Regions from separate parts of the Homo sapiens genome. Here region 2 is linked to region 1. The links come from fine-mapping of genetic effects on gene expression. A gene starts in region 1. The other region holds a variant in brackets. All regions are shown on one strand. Distances are between the middles of the regions.

Evidence for each region. PIP is the estimated chance that this variant, and not a neighbour inherited with it, causes the effect.
Region 2: its variant is fine-mapped to the expression of NR3C1 in whole blood (TOPMed, PIP 0.98).

The regions. Positions count from the first base shown.
Region 1 is chr5:143,398,927-143,414,023 of GRCh38, reverse strand. NR3C1 (nuclear receptor subfamily 3 group C member 1) reads left to right here and starts at 10,338. Exons shown (of 9, transcript NM_000176.3): 1 at 10,338-10,813; 2 at 13,172-14,368. The coding sequence starts at 13,185. LOC128966704 reads left to right here and starts at 5,463. Exons shown (of 2, transcript XM_054328421.1): 1 at 5,463-8,690; 2 at 9,108-9,358. The coding sequence starts at 8,383. The coding sequence ends at 9,138. RefSeq lists enhancers at 8,133-8,182, 7,903-8,669, 8,503-8,742, 9,143-9,282, 9,323-9,392 and 2 more and silencers at 9,443-10,712, 10,953-11,032, 11,243-11,342, 14,920-14,989.
Region 2 is chr5:143,378,310-143,386,309 of GRCh38, reverse strand. The region is part of intron 2 of NR3C1 (nuclear receptor subfamily 3 group C member 1); the gene reads left to right. Among named protein-coding and RNA genes, the nearest start is that of NR3C1, 21 kb to the left of the region's middle. The variant G/T (reference allele first, on the strand shown) is at 4,348.

The DNA of each region.
Region 1 (15,097 bases):
AAACATTTTAAGTCATGTCTATTCTCTTAAAATGTAAAATATGATGTTTATGTCACTGTTAATATTTTGATAAAAAGCTATTGTCATGGACATCTGGGTTTTTTTCTGCATGCCCAGAAATCCCTTTTCTCCTATTTAAATTTAAAATCTCCAATTATTTGGAGAAGCACCTCCTCTTCTCTCTCTTTCATTTGTACCCCATTCTTAGGTGTCAGTGGTGGGCACTTGAGCTAGGCTTTGCCCATCATAGTACACATTCCTGACATCCCTTGGTCATAGTTATTGGTCCAGGGATAAGCATTTGAACCAACTAGACCAGTGAAACCCCTCCCAGGAACAACTACTAAAATTATGGGAAAAGAACTCTTTCCACTGAAGTTACTAACCTGGCAGGATGTGTTAAATCCAGGTGCCACAGGCCACCAGGTGGAGAGGTGGAGATAATCTTTCCAGAAAACAAAACAAAACAAAACAGGAAAATGAAGCTAAGGGATAAAATTTAAGCCCTTTGGACTTCATTTGAGCCCCTGAATCCAGTCATGCCTCCTGAAATTAAACTTCCCCTGGACTTTTCAGTGAATCAAAAAACTCTGTTTTTAACAGTGGGGTTTCTTATAAATGCACCAAAAAATGACCTAATGAATGTTGTCTACAAGCTTCCATTAGAAGTATTATCTTCAAGAGAAAAAAAAAACAAATAACTTGAAGAAAACCCTTCATAATTCAAGTCAGTCCTGCTAACCTCTAGGAAACCCTCCGTGACCACCATCTCCATATCCACACCCATTTTCCTAACCTTAAACACCAGATGACTTCTTGAAGCTTATGAAGTGCCCTATGCATCTAACACATTTCTGTAAGTCTGCATTGTTCTATAATGACTTGTAACCGTATCTGTCTCCATTTCCTCCAGAGAAGAGATTGTTATCATTTTGATATCCCTGCAGCCTTATACTGGGGCCTAACATATAATAGTTGCTATTTTGTTGAAGGAATTGTATTTTGTTGAAGGAATTCTCTTTTGTTGAAGGAATGAATGGAGAGAATATTAATTAAGAAAGTCTCTTCTATTAATAAACATTCCCTGATTGATTGAAACCATGCCTAAAATAGCTAATCATCAGAAGACCAAAGTAAACAACATATCCAAACTGAATCCTCAAAGTGTTAGTCATTGGTAGCTGTATAGCTGAGAATCTTTCCTTCTTCTGGTCATTAGGGTTGAAAGGGTGGGTGAATGTGGAGACATGATTCTTTCTTTTGCAAAACATTTACTATTTTTTAAACTCCATAAAATGTAATAACTTCTCTTGAAAAATGTTAAAACCCAAACAAAAAAACCTGTAATGTGGAATATAGATTGTAGGTTATAATGGAGGAAGCAGGGAAAGTGGGGAAAACTGTGGTTGCCAGAAGTTTTCTGATAACTAATAGGCAAGACAATAGGGTGGCTTTTGGTAGGGTCCTTCTTTATGGCATAGCAAAGAAAAATAGGAATGAAGAAGTGAGAAGCATGAAAGGGGACAGCAATATATGTGTAACACAGGGTGATTCAGTGTGAGAGTTTTATAATTAAAATTGCCAAATGTGAGAAAAAAAAATCTACTATAAATTGGGATAGGCTCAAGGCATGGAGATGAACAAATAACCCCTCCATGTGGGCAAAAATCAATGAAATTACTAGATGAGTAGCTTAGTATGTGAGTTCCAGTTGCAACATGTTACTGGTATTTGGGGCTTCCCCTCCCCCCTCCCCCCCTGCACTTTGAGGCAATTCGACATTTGACTAACAATCCAGCCTAACTTTCTCCATCTGATATAAAGATATTTACCTTGAAATCCTAGAACTGCCAACATCTCCTACTTCCTACTACAACCCTCCCTGACTCCTTTTCTCTGGCACAGCTTTCTATGCACTCACCCCATTCAACTAAGCCTGCTTACTCTTCACCAGAAGGTCTTCTCTTAGCATAAAAAGTTCCTGGAAGTCCATCTCTTTCATAGAGCTGCTGGATGACTGCTTTGCTTACCTTTGGCCTTCAAAATACCTCTCCTGTCCAACCATAGCTCCCCAGCTCCCCTGCCATTGCAACCAATACAAACTTCGTCATCTTTCCTTGGGCCAATGTGCCTGTCTCCTCACTGCTCTCCCTGCTTTCTCCCTTAGCCCCTACAACTCATACTCCACATCGCAAGCAGAACGAGCTTTTCAAATAGTAAATTAGATTATGTCCATTAGTGTGTTAGTAAATGTTTAACAGCTCCTGAGGGGAACAGAGTATCTATGTGTTTTATAATTTTTACATATATGTATCACATAATTTACAAAAAGCAAGAAAAAATATAACACTCTTAATAGTAAATTCTATATGGCCATGTGATTTTCACAGAACCATTTCAGTGATTTTTGCAGAATATTTGTGTCCATAGCCAACCTACAGCTAAAATTCAAACACGTTTGGCAAAATCAGACCACAAATAAATATCTGATTAATATCCAATCAGCAAAGAAGTCATTCATGGTACTGAAGTCCCAACATGAATGTTGGTTGATATTTTTACATTAATGAGCGAGATAAAAGTGAAGCAACAAAAATGGATGTTGGAACTAAACTCGTTCATTAATGACAGAAGTGACTTCTTTTGCTGATAATAGCTTTCAAGTACTAGAAAAATATTTCCTCAAGTTTTTGTGTTCACAAACTAAGGCACTTTTAAGTTCAATCTTCATTATTAAAATTTCTTCTACTCTGTCAGTCTAGACAATCAACAAAACAAATCAAGCTCTGGTTTGTCATGTTTCCCAATTTCTATAGTATAGGTACTCCACCATGGTTGATTTCAAACTACCAAAATAACATTTCTGAATGCAGCGTTAGGAAGGGATACGCTGCATCATACCATCGTATGGTATGTTCTTATACAGAACAGACAGAAATAACTTTAAGAACATAGATAATAGTAAAATGGAGTAAAATAATTAGGCAGTAAAGTCTTCAGCATTTATTTTTGTTGTTAAAATATTTGATTGTGAGTTTATAAATAATTTGGTTTTTAATAATGACTGTGATTAACAACCAACTTACAAAATCTCTGAAAATTTAACAGTCAGTGCTTGCAAGCTGGTACAATTGTTTCCGGTGCACTACTGAATTATCACTCCCCTGCCTAAAATTCCAGACTGCCCATTGCACTGATTCCCTGGGAAATAAGTGAAAAGAGACAATGATAATTTTCATTTTTGTTGTGGTGAAGTGATAGTGCAAAAATTCCATAAGCTCCTCTAAGTTTTCCAAATAAAGCTTAGTGTTTAAAAACGTTTGAACACATGATCCCATGTAAGGCCTACATTACTTCCTGTGTGATAGGTGGGGTAGATATCATTATCCTTCCTTTACAGATTGAAAAACAAGGCTGAGAAAAATCAAATGCCTACCCCAGGCTCATTCAAGTAAGTAAATGGCAGAATAGGGTCTAAAAACCAGGTCTTGTATTGAAAATTCAACAAGAGGATAGAGAAAATTTAATTGACAAATACTGATCTCAAAACAATTTTTTTTTCAATGGTGACAAATGTCCTTTGTAGCACTTTGGAGTTTGATATGAAGTATCTTCTTATCTTGTTAAGGGATCCCTATACCAAGAATGTTTTCATCTCAACCCCACTATTTCTAAGTTAGCTTAAAAACAAAACAAAACCCTGTGTGCTCTAATAAGAAGATATAAGAACCAAAATGGAAATGCAGGTTCTCAAATGAGCTGAAAGATTCCACATAGCAGCGGGGCAGATTGAAACACTCTTTACCAAAGGAACATGGGAGAGAAAAGGAGATTAAATCAAGAAAGGAAGAAAGCTAATGACATATGAGGAGCCACAAATGCCACAAATGAAAAAACAAAGTACGTAATACTTGTTGCAATTATTCAGTGTGCTTGCTCTAATGCCTCCAAACATTAAAAACATTGAGTTCCTGCTTATGGCAACATTTATCTCATTTATCTGCTGATAGCTGCCTCATCCTTGAATCAGGTATTGCTTAAACTAAGTTCTGCCAGCATAAAGAATAAAGTCAACCAGGACACCCATTGGGCATTTCACGCATATGAGCACAAATTGTGATATTTTAGGTTGCTTATGATGAAATCATTGAAAGCATCATGAAAGACAGCAAAACAGCAGGAAAGCTAGTAATAATTTAGCATTTCCCAGTCCAGGCGGGAATGTTAATTCTAATTACAACGAGGAATACCAAAGTGGAGTTCATTATGATTAAGAACTTGCTGTACTAGTGTGAATTGTTTATAATAGGCATGTCTGGCATAAAATACAAATATTGAAGCAGACAGAGATGGCTCATTCAAAGCTCAGCTGGGTTCCCTTGAACCTCTTACCTTATAAAGTTAAATAGGAATAGAAGTATTTTCCAAAGTCAAGATATTATTTTAAAGAGACAAATAATAGCTATGATAGCTGCAGGAATAATTTTTTAAAGTAAGTTCTAACCACCAATAAAAGCTGTTTGTGTGGGCTTAACATGTTCAAAATACACAATACACATGTACACAATACACGTATACATGGTTCCCATTTATATTTAACATCACACATTTAAAGTGAGAGAGTACAGAAAAAAAGAATAAATGGAAACTGAAGCCATGACAAAGAATCACGGACTATAGGAAAATAAGTCACAAAGAAGTATGCTTATGTAAGAGGAAATATATGTGATAAACAACAGGAGACATGGGAATGAATGTGGTGTCTTATGTCCTTTCTTTAACAGAATCGTGTAACAGACACTACTCAATATCGATCTCAACTGATCCAGTTCTCCAGTCTCCCTGGAAAACAATGGATTGATGCCCAGGGTGCGCTGAACACTGGAACCATGGTCACTTCTGCACTTCACACGATTCTGCTCCCACCAGTTGAGCTACCAACAGTTCCTGGTGCTTTTGCTTCCCAAACATGTTTATGCCATTTGTTGCTTATTACTGTACTTACTTAATTTGATTAAATATTAAGTAAAATGATGAAATGAGTGTAAAAAATTGTTCTATAAAATCTAAATGGAAAGATGCCCTATAGCCTTCCTTGACTTACAGTTGCGTCAAGTAAGGTGGATGTAAGACAATTTTAAAAGACTGGTGTGGGGGCAGGAGTGAGGAATCATAAAAATTTAGAAATCTGCACGAAAATTATTCTAAAAGTACACATTGAACATCCCTAACTTGAAAATCTGAATTTTGAAGTGCTCCAAAATCCAAAACTTTTTGAGCATTGTTATGATACCACAAATGAAAAATCCTACATGGAAGTACTTACCACAAACTTTGCTTCATGCCCCAAATTATTTTAAATATTGTATAAAATTATCTTCAGGCTATAAGGTGTATATGAAACAAAAAATGAATTTCCTATTTAGACTTGGGTCCCATGGCCGAGATATCTCATTATAATGCAAATATTCCAAAATCAGAAAAAAAAAAATCCAAAATCTAAAACACTTTCAGTATTAAGCATTTCAGGTCATGGATACTGAATGTGTATCTTTAATTTCTTGTTCTACTTTGTTTAAAAAAAAGGGGGAAAATAGTAATTCTACAGATGAATAATAATTGCTAATGATGAGCAAATACTTCCTATGACCCAGGAATTCGTCTAAGCACTTCACATATATCAAACTGGTTTAATCTTTATAAATCAGTACTATTATTATCCCCATTTTACAGATGATGGAAAAAGGCACAGAGAGTTAGCCTGCCCAAGGTTACATTCCTTTTAGTGGTGGAGACTGTATTTGGCCTTTATAGTCTGGCTTTTAACTGCTACACTATATCAATGCATTACAGGTATAGTTTATACACACACTAAAGAAGACATGGAACTCCAGTCAGTGGGCTCATAAAAGCTTTAGACCTTCATCAAAAGATTAGAAAATAAATGTTCAATCACAGGTTTTAGGTTTCAAAAGTTTCAAAAGTTTAAAGTTTGCAAGTTATCTTTCTTAAAATTATTTCCTTCTTTTAACTAATTTTTAAATTAAACTCCAGTTCAATCACATCCACTAGAAGGCTTCACTTTCTACAAAGGGGTAGGTAAAGGTGATGATCTTAAATACCATACTGGGAGTTGGGATCTGTGTAGCACTAGAATCAAGAGTTATTGTATATACTTGAGAAGGAGCACAGCCTGATTTAGTTGATGTTTTGGAGGGGTAATCTGGCAGTACAGCTTGGATTATTTTAGTGGGAATGGAGATGACAAAACATGAAGAGAATGGGAGAACTCACTTGGGTAATATATCAGTTTCTGAAATCAATGTATCAAGTGGTTTGGTTATTAGTCAGGCTTAAGGTTTTATTGGCCTTAGGACATAGTCTCTAAGACCATATATTATCTTCATTCATTCATTTAACCAACACCCACTGAGCACCAACTATGCACTAGTGATACAGGGGTGAACAAACAGACACAGTCCCTGCCTTTGCAGAACTTATGTTCTGGTGGGTGATACAGAGAAATAACAAATGAGGGCACAAATAATGAACTATCATTGTAATGTGCTAACAAAGTATGCAGAATACTATAAGAACATACAATCAAGAATCTAATCTAGTTTATTTTAAAAAAAAGTGGGGGGAGCACTCAGATGTTTAAACACAAAACAATAAAAATGAGGATCTTGAGGGTTATCTGTACACTTTTTATTAACCCATTTGGCCACAACAATAACCCAGTAAAAGTGATTTTACATCTAGTTAACTAGTTGACTCAATGTTATTATAACCCTGTAATGTATTTGTTGGGTGCCTGCTATGTAGTGGGCTGTGTTCCAGGAGTGGGACATAAAGCTATGACAAGATAGATCAGGTCCTTGCCTTGACTGAGTCTGAATACATCACCTTCATTTCCACCTCTGCTTCTAAGACAATCAAATACCTTCCCACTCAGATAGGGATTCATCCTATTTCTTGTAGTAATTATAAGTTCCCAGGGTTACAGATTAGTAAATGCCATACCTAAAGACTTAGGATACTGTGCATAAAACACTTTCAATAGTGTCTGTCAGACAGCAGATGCGCAATAAATGTTGACTTTCGTTAGAATTGTGTTATTATTATAATGCTAAATCTCACGTCCTTTCTGGCACACTGGAGTTCATCTCTTCAATTAAATTCCGTAAGCACATATTGTAAGTAGTCTATCAGAATTGATATACTACTTCATGTTAATGATTGAGATCAGTGAGGAAAACCACTTTAATATTGTCTAATTCCTCTCTTAATGCATAGGAGCCATGTGAACTTAGACAAGCATCAACCTCTGTAAGCCTGTTGTCCTCATATTGAAAAATCGAATAACAATACCTATCTCATTTAATTGTTGTCAGCAAAAGTGGGCAGCAGAAGAGTGGGGATCAATAAATGTTAGCCACAAATCATAACTATTTGTATTACTCTGAAAAAGAGGGGTTAACTTATAGTTCATGCATGCTTCCAAATGAATGTGAAAGACTAAAGAATGAGAATTTTTTTGCTATCAAATTAAAAAATTAACAGGCACATTTAGATTGCTGAAGAGAGAAATTAGGATAAGTTTTTTTTTTTTTTTGCTCAATTAAAAACGTTTTCAATGGCATATTTAAAACTACGTATTCTTCCCCATTAAGATCTGCAGAGAAAAAAAAATGAAGGGAGAATAATTGGGAACTCTTGTGAAATCATAAATTATTTAAGCAGAGTACCTACCACTAAGGATTTGAGCATGTATGAGCGATGAGGTGGATTCTTAGAGCAGAGATTCAGCAGTGAGACAGGCTAATGGCATGGGGAGATGTGTTCTATTAGACAACTGTATTGTCCCCTTAATTATATACATATATATGTATATAATATATATGTGTATACATATGTATACATACATGTATATATAAATAGAATTCTTAATCATTTTAAGCAGTGTACAAGGATAATTATTAGCATGGGCTATTTAACTCACTTTTAAAACGTGTAAAACATTATTGTAGGGTTGGGTCTTGATTTGTTTCCCATGAAACTGTTGGTAGTTTAGGGGCCAAATTAACGAAAGACATCTCATTCTAGTGCTTGAGGCTCAGAAATTGGAAAAACGGGCAACTAGGTCAAGCAGTGTTCTCATAGCCTCACAGATGAGCATCCAAAGCAAGGGCCTCCTTCTAGTTGACTTGTGCCAAGGGACAGGAGAAGCGGAGTCTGCCTTCTGGGTCCAGAAGGGGGTTTTGTTAACATGGAGTTGCTCAGCGCCCTTCATAAAAATTCTTCTGGCTGAGGGTTCTACGTTGGCATACGGTTGGTTCCCTCTTCTTTTCCGAGGTGGCGAGTATCTCTTCCTTTGCCAAGATGGCGGCTCCAGAATCCTCTGGAGGCGGCCCCCGTAGATCGTCTCCGGACAAGAGGCTTGCTGAAAGCCTACTTCTTTCCTTTCACATCAGACAATGCACAGGGAACCGTTTACCCTTGAGAACCAAGGAAGGACGGCTTAGGCTACCCGCGATCGCGAACCTTTGCCAAGATGGTGGCCGCGGGGACGGGCTGGCGACACTGTACCCTACCAAGATGGCGGCGGGCGGCTTCCGGGACGCGCTTCCCCAATCGTCTTCAAGATGTCAGAGCAGGGGGAGCCGCCGTCAGTCTGAGCGCGGCGGGAGGTGAGAGAGTGGCTGTGGCCGAGCGCCCGAGCAGGATTAGGTGGAGCTGCGGCAGCCCCCGCCCGTGTCAGGAGCTGGCAAGCGATGTCACCTGTGGGGGCGCAAAAGTTACCTCCCCAAACCCTAAACCCACACAGCACAACCTTTCCCAGAGTCACAAAAATCATAATCTGTGCCGCACAAGGTAGGAGGCTCGGTCCCGGCATCGTCCAAGCCTTCCCGACGCGGCGAGCTGGGGAAGGGAGCTGGGGCGGGGGCTTCCCGCACGGGCACCCCTCGCCCCACGGCCCTCTCCTTTCTCAGGACGGACCACGAGTTCCCTTCCCCTTGGACTGAGGGGGAAGCTCCTAACAGGAACATCTGTAGGGAGTTGAACGCTGGCATTTTAAAGCTGCCTGTATTTTGTTTTATTTGTAGGGGCAGGGGTCCTATGAACGTGATAGGGTGAGCAACGCACAGAGTCGAGGGCAGCAAATGTCAAGATTCGGGGGTGGGGCCTGCACCGGGAACTTGGACGCGGGCCCTGGCCGGGGTGGAAGAAGAGGTCAGGAGTTTCGGAAGGGGGGCTATATTTCGCCAGCAACTTACTATTTCGCCTGCAACTTGCTTTTAAGCCTGCCGCCCCCTGCTTTCCTTAATCATAATAATAAAAAAAAAGTGCAAAGAAATCCAGCTCGCTGGAGGTTTTGCATTTGGCGTGCAACTTCCTTCGAGTGTGAGCACATTGGGCGGGAGGGGTGGGGGTTGAACTTGGCAGGCGGCGCCTCCTTCTGCCGCCGCCGCCGCCTCGCAGACTCGGGGAAGAGGGTGGGGGACGGTCGGGGCGCGGGGGAGGGTGGGTTCTGCTTTGCAACTTCTCTCCCAGTGCGAGAGCGCGGCGGCGGCAGCTGAAGACCCGGCCGCCCAGATGATGCGGTGGTGGGGGACCTGCCGGCACGCGACTCCCCCCGGGCCCAAAGTACGTATGCGCCGACCCCCGCTATCCCGTCCCTTCCCTGAAGCCTCCCCAGAGGGCGTGTCAGGCCGCCCGGCCCCGAGCGCGGCCGAGACGCTGCGGCACCGTTTCCGTGCAACCCCGTAGCCCCTTTCGAAGTGACACACTTCACGCAACTCGGCCCGGCGGCGGCGGCGCGGGCCACTCACGCAGCTCAGCCGCGGGAGGCGCCCCGGCTCTTGTGGCCCGCCCGCTGTCACCCGCAGGGGCACTGGCGGCGCTTGCCGCCAAGGGGCAGAGCGAGCTCCCGAGTGGGTCTGGAGCCGCGGAGCTGGGCGGGGGCGGGAAGGAGGTAGCGAGAAAAGAAACTGGAGAAACTCGGTGGCCCTCTTAACGCCGCCCCAGAGAGACCAGGTCGGCCCCCGCCGCTGCCGCCGCCACCCTTTTTCCTGGGGAGTTGGGGGCGGGGGGCGAAGCGCGGCGCACCGGGCGGGGCGGCCACGCCAGGGGACGCGGGCGTGCAGGCGCCGTCGGGGCCGGGGTGGCGGGGCCCGCGCGGAGGGCGTGGGGGCAGGGACCGCGGGCGCCCCTGCAGTTGCCAAGCGTCACCAACAGGTTGCATCGTTCCCCGCGGCCGCCGCGCGGCCCCTCGGGCGGGGAGCGGCCGGGGGTGGAGTGGGAGCGCGTGTGTGCGAGTGTGTGCGCGCCGTGGCGCCGCCTCCACCCGCTCCCCGCTCGGTCCCGCTCGCTCGCCCAGGCCGGGCTGCCCTTTCGCGTGTCCGCGCTCTCTTCCCTCCGCCGCCGCCTCCTCCATTTTGCGAGCTCGTGTCTGTGACGGGAGCCCGAGTCACCGCCTGCCCGTCGGGGACGGATTCTGTGGGTGGAAGGAGACGCCGCAGCCGGAGCGGCCGAAGCAGCTGGGACCGGGACGGGGCACGCGCGCCCGGAACCTCGACCCGCGGAGCCCGGCGCGGGGCGGAGGGCTGGCTTGTCAGCTGGGCAATGGGAGACTTTCTTAAATAGGGGCTCTCCCCCCACCCATGGAGAAAGGGGCGGCTGTTTACTTCCTTTTTTTAGAAAAAAAAAATATATTTCCCTCCTGCTCCTTCTGCGTTCACAAGCTAAGTTGTTTATCTCGGCTGCGGCGGGAACTGCGGACGGTGGCGGGCGAGCGGCTCCTCTGCCAGAGGTAAGAAGCGAGGCGGGAGGGGGCCGGGGCGCGCTCGCTCCCCCGAGGTGCCGCTGGGACCGGAGACAACTCGGGGGCCGCCGCGGGAGCCTACAAACTTTTATTAGCCTCGGGGAGTGGGGGTGGGGGGCTGGCAAGGGCCGGGCGACGGTGACGAAAGGGCAGCGCGCGGGTGACAGCGCTGGCCTCTTCCTCTCCCTCCGCAGGCGTCCCCTGGCCGGGCCGAGGGGGAGGAACCTGACCTCGGACGGCGAGCGGAGCCCTGTCGAACTGCCGGGGGCTTCGAGCCTCTCATTCCTCGCGGGAATCCTGGCCTCTTTTCTCCCCCTAGTGTCCCCTTTCCCTCCAAGGGGGTCGCCCGACACCCGTTTTCGTGGTGAACGCTAAGCCGCGTCTGAATTTTACTCGCCCGAATATTTGCACGCCACCCCGGCGCGCCCGAGCGCGAGCCCGGGCTCCGGGGAGGCCCCGGCGGCGCCTGGCTTGAGGAGGGCGTGCGGGGCGCGTGAGGGTGCACACGCGGGGGGCTGACAGCCCGCAACTTGGAGACTGCGGCCGGGGCCGGCGTTATCTGTTAGAAGTGGGCGTGTCGGAGAGAGAACTCAACAGGTCTGGACGTACTTCTCTTTTAACCTCGCACTTTTTTCTCTTCTCCACCCCCGCCCCGCAAGGGCTTGCTCTTTAGCGTTTGTTGTTAATTCGCGCCTGAGGTTTCTAAGTGGCCCCTTTTAGAAAAAGACCCCCTGTAACCGTAATGGTTTTGTGCTGCGATTTTTACAAGTGCTAGTTTGACGTTTGGGGTTGCAGACTTGATAATTGCAACCTTGTAATACCACTTAAGACCCTCTGGCATGGTTCATTAGGGCCAATTAATGTGGCTGGGTTATTTGCAACTTAAACTGGGGGATAATGTCGCTTGAGGGAGCGTTTTCGTTTTAGGAAATATTGTTTTGGTTTCGGGTTTGAAGGCAGCTGTCAAAAAAGCGGCATGGAAATTCATTGGGCTCCATTCGATACCTCGTGTTTAGAGATCGTTATCGCCTCAGATAAACGGGGCAGAGAGGTGGGGAGATAAGCAGTTTACCCTCAAGATTTGTAGTGGCAAGTCCACACCCCTCTCTCTACCTTCATATTCACTTTTCAGTGAGGGCCAGTGACATTTATGCTGCCTAACGTCATCGCATAGGAAAAGTTACCTTTTATTGGACGGGATTTGACTATAGTGTCCCAAATGCGCTTCTCCGTCTTAGCCCATCTCTTAAAACACCCTGATTAACGATATACTAACAGTCTTACTCTCTTGAGAATAGGCTGAGAATTGGGATAGGTGAAGGTTTGGATAGGTGAAGGCAGAGAAAATTATTTTGAACATTTTACTGGATACAGTTGTACCTGAATTTATATGAATGTGATTTTACGGTTCTGTGTTTTTCCATTTTTCAGTACTTCGATATTTGTTTGGAAAGGAAAGAACTTAGAGATGTAATAGCATTTCATATTGAGGATCTCAAGCAATGTAAACAAATGTAGCTTAATCTAGATGTTTTTGTGAGTTATGATAAGGGTCAGCTATATTTAAGTTATGTAAGCTAACAACGTAGTGAGAAACTACTACACCTTCTCTTCTGCTCTTTAAAATCTAAATTTTAGTTGGCCTATATAAAGTGTATCTCATTTCATATATCCAAAATTTGGAGGTAGGCACATCCAGTCAGAAGTATGGGTTAAAAAGCCTTTTCCCAGCCTGTCGGAAGATAAGCAGATCAGCATTGTTTATTTTTCAAAGAAAACGTGCATGGTTCACCAGTTGGTTGTACTCAAAGGTTTGGATGTGTGACTAGCTGGTAGGAGGGAAATTTGGAAGTAATTAGGGATTGAGAATTCTAGCATAGTATTTATCAAATGTTATATGTATTGGTTCTCAGAAAAGCAAACAGCCGTGATTGAAAAGAGGTAGGAATTTTAATGATCACACTTCCTTTTTTTGAAATTAAATACTTTGACATCAACTTGAACCTTCAGAATAATCAGATGTAATGAATTATAATGTCTGTGATTAACAAAGCTACACGTTCAGTGAGCGGCAGGATGAATAGCCAAGCTTAGTTCGATACACTTTTGCCCTCAGCTGTGCAAATGGATTGCATTGTACTTTTAAATGTGGCATGCTGAATGGGAGCAGGGGACATGGCTTTTTATTCTGGAAGATAGAAACTACTCTTCTGGTAACAAAGAATTTGATTCGGAGTTAACTAAAAGGTTCATTTAACAAGCTGCCTCTTACTAATCGGATCAGGAAGATAATGTGACTTTAGAGCTTATGATGTTTTCCCCCCGTTTTTGTTTTTTGTTTTGTAGTTGATATTCACTGATGGACTCCAAAGAATCATTAACTCCTGGTAGAGAAGAAAACCCCAGCAGTGTGCTTGCTCAGGAGAGGGGAGATGTGATGGACTTCTATAAAACCCTAAGAGGAGGAGCTACTGTGAAGGTTTCTGCGTCTTCACCCTCACTGGCTGTCGCTTCTCAATCAGACTCCAAGCAGCGAAGACTTTTGGTTGATTTTCCAAAAGGCTCAGTAAGCAATGCGCAGCAGCCAGATCTGTCCAAAGCAGTTTCACTCTCAATGGGACTGTATATGGGAGAGACAGAAACAAAAGTGATGGGAAATGACCTGGGATTCCCACAGCAGGGCCAAATCAGCCTTTCCTCGGGGGAAACAGACTTAAAGCTTTTGGAAGAAAGCATTGCAAACCTCAATAGGTCGACCAGTGTTCCAGAGAACCCCAAGAGTTCAGCATCCACTGCTGTGTCTGCTGCCCCCACAGAGAAGGAGTTTCCAAAAACTCACTCTGATGTATCTTCAGAACAGCAACATTTGAAGGGCCAGACTGGCACCAACGGTGGCAATGTGAAATTGTATACCACAGACCAAAGCACCTTTGACATTTTGCAGGATTTGGAGTTTTCTTCTGGGTCCCCAGGTAAAGAGACGAATGAGAGTCCTTGGAGATCAGACCTGTTGATAGATGAAAACTGTTTGCTTTCTCCTCTGGCGGGAGAAGACGATTCATTCCTTTTGGAAGGAAACTCGAATGAGGACTGCAAGCCTCTCATTTTACCGGACACTAAACCCAAAATTAAGGATAATGGAGATCTGGTTTTGTCAAGCCCCAGTAATGTAACACTGCCCCAAGTGAAAACAGAAAAAGAAGATTTCATCGAACTCTGCACCCCTGGGGTAATTAAGCAAGAGAAACTGGGCACAGTTTACTGTCAGGCAAGCTTTCCTGGAGCAAATATAATTGGTAATAAAATGTCTGCCATTTCTGTTCATGGTGTGAGTACCTCTGGAGGACAGATGTACCACTATGACATGAATACAGCATCCCTTTCTCAACAGCAGGATCAGAAGCCTATTTTTAATGTCATTCCACCAATTCCCGTTGGTTCCGAAAATTGGAATAGGTGCCAAGGATCTGGAGATGACAACTTGACTTCTCTGGGGACTCTGAACTTCCCTGGTCGAACAGTTTTTTCTAATGGCTATTCAAGGTAAGATCAGTGTTTTTCTGTTTCTTAAGAATGGTACATTTAAGGTAGATTAATAGATGTAAATCTTCATTGATTTATATGTGTTCTCTAAAGATTCATGTGCTTTTTTATATGAATAAGTTTAAGTGGCCTTTTGAAAGTAGGAAAGGTAGACAACCTAAGTGACATCTGTACGTAACCATTTCAGGTTTTTTCCTTAAATAGTGGTTTTCAGTATCCCATTGGCCAACGGTGAGGATTTTATTTAACATTTTTAAAATAATGTTGCTCATTAACAGATATCTTAACGAAAAATTATATAAATTCAGGAGAGTATAATGTCTCATAATATCATATTGTGTTGTGCATGGTCATTCAGCTGTTTTAGAATATGTTCTTATATTACAATAAATGATACCCTTACTTACATAGTCAAAAGTTGTGCTGCCTTATTTGTAAATTCGTTAAGTGTTAGCTTGAGATTAAAGAGTTAAAAGCAGAAGTACTAACAAAGAGCCCTATTCTTCAAACTGAATCTTCTGTTAAAGAATTTGAGTTTTGAAGTTGCTAAAGCAATGCAGTGAACAGTGTACCAGACCATAGTATTAGACACAGGTCTTGCTCACAGGGTTCTTGCCATAAAGTAGACAAGTTATGTCTGCTGATCAATCTCTTTAAGAGAGGAATTGGTGTCAACATGGTGCAAAACAAAATTTTACGTTCAAATGTTCCTGCAAGTTCTCAAGTAGA
Region 2 (8,000 bases), 24 kb after region 1:
ATATAAATGCTATGGTTTGGCTCTGTATCCCCACCCAAATCTCATCTTGAATTATAATCCTCACATATCAGGGGAGGGGCCTGGTGAAAGGTGATTGAATCCTGGAGGCAGACTTCTCCTCTGCTGTTCTCATGATAGTGAGTTCTCATGAGATCTGGTTGCTTGAAAATGTATGGCACTTCCCTCTTCACTCACTGTCTCTCCTGCTCTGCCATGTGAAAACATGGTTTCTTTGCCTTCCACTGTGAGTGTAAGTTTCCTGAGGCCTCCCAGTAATGCTTCCTGTTAAGCCTGTGGAACTATGAGTCAGTTGAACCTCTTTTCTTTGTAAGTTACCCAGTCTCAGTTAGTTCTTTATAGCACTGTGAAAATGGACTAGTACAGAAACTTGGTACCAGGACAGTGGGGCATTGCTATAAAGATACATGAAAATGCGGAAGCAACTTTGTAACTGGATAATGGGCAGAGGTTGCAACAGTTTGGAGGACTCAGAAGAAGACAGGAAGATGAGGGAATGTTTGGAACTTCCTAGAGACATGTTGAATGGTTTTGACCAAAATGCTGATAGTTATATGGACAATAAAGTCCAGGCTGAGGTGGTCTCAGGTGGAGATGAGGCACTTATTGGGAACTGGAGCAAAGTTCACTTTTGCTTTGCTTTAGCAAATAGACTGACAGCATTTTGCCCCTGCCCTAGAGATCTGTGGATCTTTGAACTTGAGAGAGATGATTTAGAGTTCGTGGCAGAAGAAATTTCTAAGTAGCAAAGCATTCAATATGTGGCCTGGCTGCTCCTAACAACATACAGTCATATGTGTTCACAAAGAGATGGTCTGAAGTTGGAACTTAGGTTTAAAAGAGAAGCAGAGCATAAAAGTTTGGAAAATTTGCAGCCTGACCTTGTGGTAGAAAAGAAAAACCTATTTTCTGGGGAGCAATTCAAGTGAGCTGCAGAAATATGCATAGATGAAGAGTAGCCTAATGTTAATAGCCAGTAGAATAGGGAAAATGTTTCCAGGGCATGTCAGAGACCTTCATGGCAGCCCTTCCTATCACAGGCCTGGAGGTCTAGGAGGAAAAAATGGTTTCGTGGGCCAGGCCCAGGGTTGCGCTGCTCTCTGCAGCCTCAGGACATGGTGCCCTGCATCCCAGCTGCTCTAGCTCCAGCTGTGGCTAAAAGGGGCCAGGAGATAATCTTGGGCTGTTGCTTCAGAGGGGGTAAGCCTCAAACCTTGGCAGCCTTCATGTGGTGTTGGGCCTATGGGTGTGCAGAAGGCAAGAGTTGAGGCTTGAAAGCCTCTGCCTTGATTTCAGGATGTATGGAAATGCCTGGATGTCCATGCATTCTGCAGGGGCAGAGCCCTCATGGAGATCCTCTGCTAGGGCAGTGCAGAGGAGATACATGGGGTTAGAGCCCCCACACAGAGACCCCACTGGGGCACTGCCTAGTGGAGCCGTGAGAAGAGGGATACCATCCTCCAGACTCCAGAGTGGTAGATCCACTGACAGCTTTCACCATGTGCCTGGAAAAGCTGTAGGCACTCAATGCTAGCCTGTGAAAGCAGCTGCAGGGTCTGTACCCAGCAGAGCCACCAGGGCAGAGCTGTCCAAGGCCTTGGGAGCTCACCCCTTGTGTCAGCGTGGCTTGGACATGAGACGTGGAGTCAAAGGAGATCATTTTGGATTTTTAAGATTTAATGACTGTCCTGCAGGTTTTTGGACATGCATGGGGCCTGTAGCCTCTTTGTCTTAACCAATTTCTCTAGTTTGGAATGGGGGAATTTACCCAATGCCTGTATCCCAATTTTTTCTTGGAAGTAACTAGTTTTTGATTTTACAGTCTCATAAGCAGAGTGGACTTGCCTTGACCCAAGAAGACTTTGTACTTGGACTTTTGAGTTAATGCTGGAAGGAGTTAAGACTTCCGGGGACTATTGAGAATGCAAGATTGTGTTTTGAAATGTAAGAACATGAGATTTAGGAGGGGCCGGGGGCAGAATAATATGGCTTGGCTGTGTGTCCCCACCCAAATCTCAATCACTTGTAATCCCCACATGTCAGGGGAGGGGCCTAGTGGGAGGTGACTGAATCACAAGGGTGGACTTCCCTCTTGTTGTTCTCATGATCGTGAGTTCTCATGAGACCTGGTTGTTTGAAAGTGTGTGGCACTTCCCCCTTCTCTCTCTGTCTCCTCCTCTGCCATGTGAACATGTGCTTGCTTCTCCTTCAACTTCCACCAGGATTCTAAGTTTCCTGAGGCCTCTCAGTCATGCTTCCTTTGAAGCCTGTGGAACTGTAAGTCAATTAAGTCTCTGTTCTTCATAAATTATCCAGACACAGGTAGTTCTTTATTGCAGTGTGAAAACGGAATAATACAATAGATTTCCCCAAAGTTGGGTTCCTGAGTCAGGGGTATGTGTATTTAAAATTTTAACAGATATTTCCAAATTACTTTTTTCGAGGATTATGGCAAGTCACAGTTCCCCCTGGCAGTGTTTATACTTTTCTTTATAATAAAAATACATAAATCATTATTACTAACAAATTCCTTGCCATGAGTCCTAAATTGATAACAACATACCAGTGTGCCATATAACATAGCTGAGGACTGTTGCAGTCTAGAATTCAGGCTCCTTCTCTCTGCTTTTAACAATATGTGTAATGTTCAAGACCAATTTAGTGCCACTTATTTTGTATGCTTTCCTTTATGTAGTCCAGGCCATAGCCCCCCACCTCATCTGATGGTATCCTCTGGCAGCCACAGACCACACAGTTCTTTCTACCTAAATTAGTCATTAGCACATAGTAGGTACCCAGTAAATGTTTGTTGAATTAATACTGTTTATATATTTCTAATTTATCTCCAAGTAAATCCAGTCTCCTTAAGGACAAGGAACGTTTTCACTATAACACCTAGCACTTAAGGTACTCAATTTAGGTAGGGCTGTTTGAACAAAGAACCACAGAGGAAGCAAATAGCATGGCCTTGCCTTTAATACATATATTTTACTTTCTCTTAGGGAAAACTGGAACTGTAAGAATCTAGTAACAATAATAAGAACAGCACTTTTATTGAGCAGTTACTATATGTGAGGCACAGTTCAAACTGCAGAGGATACAACAGTGGACAAAGCTTTAGTTGTTTCTGCCTTTCTGAAGCTTATGGTTTATGGGTGTTACATTCAAGACATTTGTAGGACACATTCTAAAATGCCATCCAATTTCAGGCTCTTTCCAGCAGAAACTGTGGAATATTTTTCCGTTCATTCAGCATTTACTTAGTGCCTGCTCTGCCAGGAATTGAAGAGAAAGCCCAAAGACAGGCAGACCTTACCTGAGAGGTAGTGAACTGACCAGGATGACTGTGGGCAGTAGACTTGTTTCCCAAACTAGCCTCACCATTTCTGTATTTGCATATACGAGGAAAGGATTAGATATAGGGATTCATGTCAGCATACACCCCAGGGACATTTGTTTTTAGTGAAAGGTGCCAGTCTTCATCCCTGTACCCAGTACACAAACCACGAAGAAGTATGCTCCCGTCATTGTCAAAGAATCATAGAATTCCAAATGGAGCTAGTTTTGATATCCAGATCTCACTTCATATGAGGAAACTAGGTCCAGTATTGTGAGTAAGAATTAGGACTCTTCAGATTCCCTGGGTATGAATCTGACTAACAACTGTGTGAACTTGACCAAATTCATAACCCTGTAAACTCTGTTTCCTCACTTTTAAAATGGGCACAACAAAGTGATGCATGTAAACTGCATAGCACAGTGTCTGGCACTTAAAAAGCACTCCTGAAGTTATTTTTAGTGATGTGTTTTAAGATTAGACAACTCCTTAATGCCAAAGGTTTTTACTTGAGAACTCTGTCTGTTGTGCCATACTACACGCTGTTCATAAGATAAGCCTTTTTCATTAATTGATCTCAAACTGGCTTCATTATGATCTTAACTTTATTTCAGTTTTATTTTTAAAATTTATTTTTAATTTTTATGGGTATATAGTAGGCATATATATTTATGGGGTACAGGTCATGTTTTAATGCAAGCATGCAATTGTGGGGGTGATATATAATTGACTGGGGTGAGATATCTCATTGTAGTTTTGATTTGCATTTCTCTGATGATTAAGGATGTTGAACATTTCTTCATACACCTGTTGGCCATTTGTATGTCTTTTGAGAAATGTCTATTCAGATCTTTTGTCCATTTTTTAAGTTGGATTGTTTGATTTTTTCCTGTTGTCTGAACTCTTTATATATTCTAGTTATTAATCCCTTCTCAGATGGGTAGCTTGCAAATATTTTCTTCCATTTTGTGGGTTGCTTCTTTGTTGTTTCC[G/T]TTGCTGTGCAGAAGTTTTTTAGCTTGATGTGATCCCATTTGTCCATTTTTGCATTGGTTGCCTGTGCATTTGAGGTATTACTAAAGAAATCTTTGCCCATACCAGTGTCCTGGAGAGCTTCCCAAATGTTTTCTTTTAGTATCCTAGTTTCAGGTCTTAGATTTAGGGCTTTAGTCCATTTTTATTTGATTTTTATATGTGGTGAGAGATAGGGGTCTAGTTTCATTCTGCCTATGGATATCCAGTTTTCCCAGCACCATTTATTGAAGAGACTGTCCTTTCCCTAGTGTATGTTCTTGGCACCTTTGCTGAAAATGAGTTCACTGTAGGTGTATGAATTTGTTTCTGGGTTCTCTAGGTCTGTGTATCTGTTTTTATGCTAGAACTATGTTGTTTGGGTTATTATAGTTTTGTAGCATAATTTGAAGTCAGATAATGTAATTCCTCCAGTTTTATTTTTTTTGTTCAGGATGGCTTTGGCTATTCCGGGGCTTTTGTGGTTCCATATAAATCCTATGATTTTTTTTTTCTATTTCTGTGAAGAATGTCATTGATATTTATTAATAAAGATTGCATTGAATCTGTAGATTGCTTTGGGTAGTATGGACATTTTAACAATATTGATTCTTCCAATCCATGAGCATGGACTATCTTTCTTTTTTTGTGTGTCCTCTTCAATATTTTTCCTCAGTGTTTTATTGTTTTCATTGTAGAGCTCTTTCACTTCTTTCGTTGAGTTTATTCCTAGGTGTTTTATTTTATCTGTAGCTATTGTAAATGAGATTACTTTCTGATTTCTTTTTTAGATTGTCCTCTGTTGGCATCTAGAAATGCCACAGATTTTTGTATGTTGATTTTGTATCCTGTAACTGTACTGAATTTATCTGTTCTAATATTTTTTTGGTGGAGTCTTTAGGCTTTTCCAATAAGATCATACAGTCTGCAAACAAGAATAATTTGACTTCTTCCATTCCATTTTGGATTCCCTTTATATCTTTCTCTTGTCTGATTACTCTAGGTAGGTCTTCCAGTACTTCCAGTTGAATAACAGTGGGCACTCTTGTCTTGTTGTAGATCTTAGAAGAAAGGCTTTCAGTTTTTCCCCATTCAGTATGATACTAGCTGTCAGTTTGTTGCAGATGGCATAACTTTCAAACTAATTGATTATAGTTAGGAAGTGGATACTTTAACTTGTGGTACCATTATCAGATTTATATTTCGGCCATAAGCTTGAAGAGGAGCTGAAAAATGCATATGTGATGCATATGCTTCCTATTTGGCTCTCTTCTCCCACCCCCCTGCCCTATAATCCACACAAGTTCCTCTCTCAGTCACTCATCAACTACTTGAACCTCTGAGGAACTTGGGGTTAAGGTAAATTAGAATAAAACTGTCTGAAGAAGAGCAAGCCTTTCATGTCTTGAGAAATTCTTGGGGTTTTAGAAATAACTTCATTGCTTTTTTTCTCCAGTTACTTTGGCTTCTTCTTAAAGAGAATACTAACACTTTGAACGTCATAATACTAAGGTTCTGCCTCTTCAAATAAAGACTTTAAAAAAAAATGGTTTTTGTATGATTCAGTGTGAATTAAATCCCACAGTGTAAAGGACTTTACTTTCTTAATGTAGATTTTCAAATACACAATTACTGATGTTTATAAGTAGATTTATTACACCAAAGCACCTAGCAAATTCTTGAATGGATCAGGTCTTATTTTTCAGTCTTACTTTGCAAATTTAAGTCAAATAATTAAGGATTTGTTAAATATTTGTCTTAATATCAAGCTTTTGCATATCGGGGCCCTCTTTTATAAGCTTTATAAGCAATCTTTTGTTTTCTCTGCTTGCTCAAAGTAGCTATGTTTGTTGTATCTGTTAGTATTTGCTCTATAACAAACATACTGGGTGCCTTCCCACTTAGATTTGGCAATTATCACTCCTGTAAATGAGATATTACATAAGATAGGAAAAAGAACAGTATCTTTCCAAGAAGAATAGTATCCTTCCATATTAACAGTTTAGAGCTGACTGCTTTTAAAATTTAGTGGCTTTAAAATAACAACCATTTATTATTCTTCATGAGTCTACAAATGAGGTGGGCAGTTCTGCTGATCTGGCCAAGCTGAACTTATCTCAGCTGGGCACATTCAGCGTATCTGCTGTCAGTTGGCTGGTTGGCTGTAGCAATGAATGGTGAAAGTAGGCTGCCCTTAACTTTTTCACACAGTAGCATTAGAGTTACAAAAGAACCAGCAGAACCATGCAAAACTCTTTAAGACCTAGGCTTGGAACAACTATATTTCTACCACATTCTATTGGTCAAAGCAAATCACGGGGCTAGTCTAGATTCAAGTGGGTGGAGGAGCTGCAATTACACTGCAAAGGAGTGTGACTGTAGGGAGAGGTGTTTTTTTATTTTTATTTTTTTGCGATTTGTCACAGTAGTTGTAGGAATCAGGTGTATTTAAAATTCTGATCCTTCTGTGATATCCGAATTGTTCATGAACCTTGCCTCTGGTGGAAAGGCAGAATCATTGTGACAGAAGGATAAAATCTTGGAATTTAGAGACTAACAAAGGTTCAGATTCCAGCTCCATCACTTATTTCTGCAATCCTGCAGAAGTTAATCTTCCTGATAGGCATTCAGTAATGATTGATTCACCTGAACCTCAGATTCTTTATGTATTTTAAAGAAAGGGCTAGGTAAATGCAAAGCACTTATGTAACTGCTTTTATTATTGCAAACCTGGCTCCCACACTCCATTCAAGGTGTAAGACTCAGTGTCTTCCTTGAATTAAAAAGGAAGAGAAAGTGTGTTAGGGAAAGGAAGAGAAATATTTGACTAATTGTGGCCCCAATAAAGTGACCACTCACTGGGGGTATTTTCCTGTAAGAAAAGAATGGTTGAGGCTCAGAGTTAAGAGATACAAATCCAAAAGTCTCCTTGGGGTAGGATTCCCTGTGATTCATGGGTTGAGAGGTGTAACATTAGACACAGTCCCAGTCTAGATTTTTTTTTTAAAGAATTGTAGTCCATCCTATACACACTGGGTGCCTTAATACTATATGTGGCAATTATCACTCCTATAAATCAGGTTTTACATAAGATAGGAAAAAGAACAGTATCATTCCACATTAACAATTGAAAGATGACTGCTTTTAAAAAATTAAAAGGGCCATATAGAAATAAAATCACATAAATTTCTTGTGTTAAACATAGTTGTCATATTGGATGAGGACTAAACACCTAAATTCATCCAACTAGTAGTAATAGAAAAGATGAAACACACACACAGTAAAACTAGATTAATTTAATTTATACAAAGGGCCAGATATCTCAGAATTCAGACAGTCAGAGATGTTGACTAGAGTTAATGCCTCTTTTAGGAGAGGTACCAGGTAAGTGTTCTCAAAGAACTGGAAACTGAGACCACCACCTCTGGCATTATCTATTTGTGAACACAAGCAAGTCTGAATTTTTCCGCACCATAGCTACCTTTCATGTAAGCTTCTTTTCTTAGAAGAAAAGAAGGTAACATTTGGGTGTAATTTTTTATTAAGGGTGAAATTTAGTGTAGAGAGTAAAGGCATTTGGCATAGAAGCCCTTAGTTTTTTTTGTTTTTAAGTTGAACTGCCAGCCTTTATGGATTG